Regions from separate parts of the Homo sapiens genome. Here region 1 is linked to region 2. The links come from fine-mapping of genetic effects on gene expression. A gene starts in region 2. The other region holds a variant in brackets. All regions are shown on one strand. Distances are from middle to middle. Region 1 holds the start of DBNDD2 (dysbindin domain containing 2). Region 2 holds the start of TP53TG5 (TP53 target 5).

Region 1 (2,500 bases), 30 kb after region 2:
GCAGCCTCCTGCCCCCAAATCTCTTCACCCCCTTTCCAGTACCTATAGGTCGCGTAAACAACTCCCTTTCTCCAGCTCTGGGCTCCGCGGCCCCCCGGGGGACAGCTCCTTCAGTCTCGTGAGATCGGTGGGGTTAGGGGGAGGGGAAAAGAGAGGGGGTGTCCCAGAGCCCCTGGCCCCCGTCAGCTCCCCCACCTTGGCCTCTCCCTCCCCCTCCTCGCTGCTGGAGCACAGGCTCCAGGGGCCCTGGGTATTTTTAGCGTTGTGACCTGGGCGGCAGCTCTAAGAGCCTTTCCCGGGAATCGGCGTCAGCGCCTCGCTCCTCCGCCGCCAGCCCGCGGCCGCACGGTCTCCCCAGACTTCCGTGGCCCTGCCTTGGCCAGTCGGGGTTGGGTCCCTCTCCACCTCTGTGGCGCCCGTGGAGCTGGCCAGGGTCTGGGATACGCTGGGTGCAGATGAGGTGGGGAAGGCAGTCTGCGGAGGATGACGTCTGATCCTCAAGCTAGAAACTCCCTTGCCTCTGGTGATGGGCTCAGAGCAGAACGCCGGGAAGGAGATGAGCGAATGGGAATGAATGCACCGACCTGGGCTGGCCCATAGCCTCAGTGCTCTGGCAGGGTCTCAGCTTCTCAGCCCTAGGGGTCAGGAGGCCTGCTCTGAACTGGACCCAGAACCCGCCTTTCCAATTGCTCCTCACTGACTAATGGGGAGATAAGTCAGTGAGATGTGTCCCAGGAGGGGGACGCATAAAGAGCTGTTGGAGTTCAAAGGAAAGATGGTAGTCTCCTAAATAGCTCACCTTCACAAGCAGGGTCTTGTATTTGAGGCAGGTAGGTTGGTTATGCCATTTTCAGATGGGGAGACTAAGACCAGAAAGGTGATTTCCTTAGGGGCAGAGCCTAGTCTGGAAGTCAGGCCTGTGACTTCAGAGCAAGGGTTTGGGGTAGATGGCACATGCGTGTGTACGTGTTTGTGTGGGTGGAGAGAAAAGGAGGGGCGCGGGAGGAGTTGCTTTAGCCTTTGTCTGGGTTTTGAAGGATGGGAAGGGGTGGGCTGCAGCACTGGAGGAAGGGAACCCTCCACCCTGAGATCTCTGTCTCTATCCTATCCTGTCCCTGGCCTTCTGAGGCAAGCGGGGCCAATTAAGGGGAAAACGTACCTCCTCCATTTGTGCTGAACCAATCCCTCCAACCCCTCTCAGGAGGGCATGATATGGAGAGTTGGGCATTGGCTGTGTTCCCTGAATACAGAGTATCTCTCTTGTGGTGCCTGGAA[C/T]TGGCATCCCCTTTGTGGAGCTTAGGGCAAGCCCCGCCTCTGCATGAGACTTGGTTTGTGGGACACACTTGGTTTCAGGGAAGGGGAAAGAGGTCACCAAGGGCAGAGGTGTCCAGGCCGGAGCCAGGGGCCCCACTGTTGGGATGCTGGCTGCAGTGGGGCGCCCCAAGCCCAGGTCCCCTCTGTCTTCTCTTTCGACTTTGCAGCTGTACTTGTTTTGCTCCTCTACCCGCAGGAGCTGACATGGACCCAAATCCTCGGGCCGCCCTGGAGCGCCAGCAGCTCCGCCTTCGGGAGCGGCAAAAATTCTTCGAGGACATTTTACAGCCAGAGACAGAGTTTGTCTTTCCTCTGTCCCATCTGCATCTCGAGTCGCAGAGACGTAAGTCCCAAGTCCTGAGAAGAGGGACTGGGGTAGGGTAGGGAGGATGTCCTGTGGGTCCTGAATCTTGTGGCACTCTCTCCCCTCTGGTTTTCTTGGCCCTCTATGCTTCTAACTTGGGACCTGACATGTAACTCTCACTGTCCTGGTGTGCAGCTTGGGTCCTCCTGACTTGCCCACTTCTTGATCCGCAGCCCCCATAGGTAGTATCTCATCCATGGAAGTGAATGTGGACACACTGGAGCAAGTAGAACTTATTGACCTTGGGGACCCGGATGCAGCAGATGTGTTCTTGCCTTGCGAAGATCCTCCACCAACCCCCCAGTCGTCTGGTATGCCCCTCTGCTTTGGGGACTTCAGTGCCAGTCAGCCAGAGCCGGATGTCAGGCTCTGAAACGAGGCTACAAGGCTGGGCTGGGGAAGTACACAAGTAAGGGCTGGAAGTGGGTGTTTCTACCAATGAAACAGCTGCCTGTTCTGATTTTAGGGAAGTTGACCCTGAGGGAGAACTGGGTTACACATCTCTAATCCAAAATTCTGGGAACGGTCAATCTCTTCTTTAATTTTACATTTGTTATATTAATATAATTAGTCACTATAATTAAAATAATGTAAAATTGTAATTTTTATATTTGGCAACTTAAGTAGTTTTAGTCATTATAATGATATTAATATGTATTGAGTACTTTAGTAGGTTCCAATACTGTACTAAAGTACTTTACATATATTATCTCAATCCTTACAACGTCCTGTCAGGGTAGGTGATATAATCTCTATTTTATAAGCAGGAAATTAGGCTCAGAGAAGTTAAGTCACATTGTAGCCAGAAGGTAGATAAACTGG
Region 2 (3,012 bases):
CCTTAGCTTCCTTATCTGTAAAACTAGGATAATTCTGTCTACCTAACAGGATTGTTGTGAAGAATAAACTAAATGGGAAAATTCTTAAGTGCTTAACACTGTAGGATGGTACTTAGCAGGCACCAATCAATGTTAGCTTTCTTAATACTGTCATGTGACTTATGAGGAAACGGTTTGAACTTGTCTCGGAGGCATGGTAAAAAAAAATAAAAATAAAAATAAATTAATAAAGAAACCAAGCCTCAGCAAGATTAATCTTCAGATTTCAGGGGTCAGTCTGCAGGTGACTCTCTGGGTTATATTGACTTGCAGGGGAGGAGGAGGAGGAGTAACCTGTCTGTCTCAGTGCCCCAGGGTGAAGTGAGCACCACAACTGGATGATTACAACCATTGTTATGGCCACAGCTCTAATATCAGACAGGAATGGCTTCACATCCTAGCTCTGCCACTTATCAGTTGAGTTAACTGAATGAGACAAGTCACTTCACCTCTTCAGCCTCAGCTCTCCAGCAGTAAAATAGAGTTAATAAATACCTCTCTCACAGAGGCTTTGTGAAAATTAGACTTGTTCTCTAAATGCCTTAGCACAATGCCTGTTCCCAGAAAGACGGCATTTGGGTCCATTATGGGGGCCAGGCCCCAGCTTACCCAGAGGAGATGCGGAGAATCTTTGGAACACTGAGCAGTGAATGCCAACACCTTTTGGCCAGCTTATGCAGTTCTTGGATCCGGCGGTTTGAGCTCTTGAGTAGCTTCAAGAGCGACAAGTTTTTTAACACCTGCCAGGGTCAAGAAACCAGGTAAATAGAAGCTTCAGCTTTCCTGGACAGCCTCCCTCTCCCCTGCCTGCCTCTGGCTCCGCTCAGCCAAGGGCCGGCCTGCTGGCTCCCCTGGGCCACTCAGCCTGGCAACCAGGGGCAGTACTGCATGAGTATATGAGCTTCCCCAAGCTGGGGCCAAAACAGGGCGTCTCACCGTTCTCAGACGGTTCCGCTCAATTACTTTGCTCACAGGCTGCTCTGTCTCGTCCCGCAGTTTCTCATCTTGCATCTGAGGGACAGAGGATAAGAGAGACATAAACCCAGAGGAATCAGCCAGGTGTGGTGCCTCATGTCTGTAATCCCAGCACTTTGGGAGGCCGAGGTGGGTGGCTCATTTGAGGTCAGGAGTTTGAGATGCCTGGCCAACATGGTGAAACCCTGACTCTACCAAAAAAAAAAATACAAAAATTAGCGAGGTGTGGTGGCATGCGCCTGTAGTCCCAGCTACTCAAGAGGGTGAGGCAGGAGAATCACTTGAACCCAGGAGGTGAAGGCTGCAGTCAGCTGAGATCTCGCCACTGCACTCCAGCCTGGGCGACAGAGTGAGGCACTGGAGGAATCCTCCTGAACTCCTCCATGTGCCTCTTCATTTGGCTGAGCATGGTTTGACCAATCCTAGGCTGGGAGTTTTGTCATCTTGGTCTGGGGACAGAACTGGGAGACCATTTTAACTCTCCTGACCTCCCTTCACCCTTCACCTTTTCCTTTTCTCCCATGCTGGAAAGCCCCTTTCCTTGGCATGGTGGATTCTTTGTTAAGGTCCCCTCTAGGGACTCACCCCCAGGGTCTAGTCCCAAGTCTGACCTTGGAAACCCTGCTGTTCTTGGGCCTCTTCTTTGCTGATGGACTCATGCTGGGGCTGTGAGACCTCAGAGATGAATGGAGCAACACCAGTGCCAGGCACCAACCCTGTTCCTCTCAGTTCAGCCAGCACTCAGGCTGGGCATCAGATGGTGGTGCTGGCTCTGTACCACCTGCAGCTGTGACATCACTGAAATGTGACAGTAGCAGGGCTGGGTCTCCAAGGAGTGTATGTGGCAGAGGTGAGGGGTAGAGGGTGAGAAAGAAATATAGACAATAGGCGACAGACAGCTGTGTGCATTGTCACAACCTCCCTGTGGGGTAAGAGGATTATCCCCTCTTTTTAAATGAGGAAGCCAGGGTTCAAAGAGGTTGAATAATCTACTCAAGGCCACACTAGATCTAGCCCAGCTAGATCATAGTGGGCTGGAAACCTAACCAAGGTCTGATAGTCAACCCATGAAACCAGGGATTCCCAAACCATGCTCATCCATTCAGTCATGTCGCCTGTTTTGACTGGGCGCCTGCTACATGCCAGGTGCTTTTTCTTTTCTTTCTCTTTTTTTGTTTTTTGTTTTTTGAGACAGAGTCTCACTCTGTCGCCAGGCTGGAGTGCAGTGGTGAGATCTTGGCTCCCTGCAACCTCCGCCTCCTGGGTTCAAGCGATTTTCCTGCCTCAGCCTCCCAAGTAGCTGAGACTACAGGCACCCGCCACCACGTCCGGCTAATTTTTGTATTTTTAGTAGAGATGGGGTTTCACCATGTTAGCAAGGATGGTCTCGATCTCTTGACTTTGTGATCCGCCCACCTCCACCTCCCACAGTGCTGGGATTACAGGCATGAGTCAGCGCGCCTGGCCTTGCCAGGTGCTTTTTCTAAGTGCTAGAATAACAGAAAATTCTTGCCCTCAAGCTTACATTCTAGTGGAGGGGAAACAGTGTGTGTACTTGTAAATGTTTAATAATTGGCTCTCTGAAGCAAAATGTATATGTGTTTGTATTATAAATTTTACTGATAGAAATCAACAAATAATAGAATCCTATAATACTCTTTATTGTAACTTCTATTAGTGAGTTGCTTCTTATAGTATGCTTTTCTTGGATTTTGCCTAACCCCTCCATTTATAGCCAACCTATGGTTGTAATGGATAAACAAGTATAATACCAACATTAATGTTTGTATTTTCATTTACACTAAACAGTAAGAAGAAGGTGAAAAAGTGAAACAACAGAGATATTGAAATTTAACTCATTTATCAATGATTTCATTGACCTATTTGCTGAATTAGACCATAGTTTTTGAATACTGGAGATATATTTCTCAGATTCTTTTTGTTATTTACAATCGAATAGCTATGGGCAGGACACTTGCTTATGTTTTCTCTTTTTTT

What was found. PIP is the estimated chance that this variant, and not a neighbour inherited with it, causes the effect.
Region 1: its variant is fine-mapped to the expression of TP53TG5 in putamen (GTEx, PIP above 0.99).

The regions. Positions count from the first base shown.
Region 1 is chr20:45,406,950-45,409,449 of GRCh38, forward strand. DBNDD2 (dysbindin domain containing 2) reads left to right here and starts at 1,340. Exons shown (of 3, transcript NM_001048225.4): 1 at 1,340-1,657; 2 at 1,852-1,989. The coding sequence starts at 1,519. It overlaps SYS1-DBNDD2 (SYS1-DBNDD2 readthrough (NMD candidate)), which reads left to right. Exons shown (of 6, transcript NR_003189.2): 4 at 1,511-1,657; 5 at 1,852-1,989. LOC107985404 (a long non-coding RNA gene) reads right to left here and starts at 940. Exons shown (of 5, transcript XR_007067608.1): 1 at 800-940. RefSeq lists an enhancer at 1-477. The variant C/T (reference allele first, on the strand shown) is at 1,276.
Region 2 is chr20:45,376,564-45,379,575 of GRCh38, forward strand. TP53TG5 (TP53 target 5) reads right to left here and starts at 1,762. Exons shown (of 5, transcript NM_014477.3): 1 at 1,626-1,762; 2 at 976-1,050; 3 at 649-779. The coding sequence starts at 1,673. All of the region lies in intron 3 of SYS1-DBNDD2 (SYS1-DBNDD2 readthrough (NMD candidate)), which reads left to right. It also overlaps a transcript of SYS1 not described here.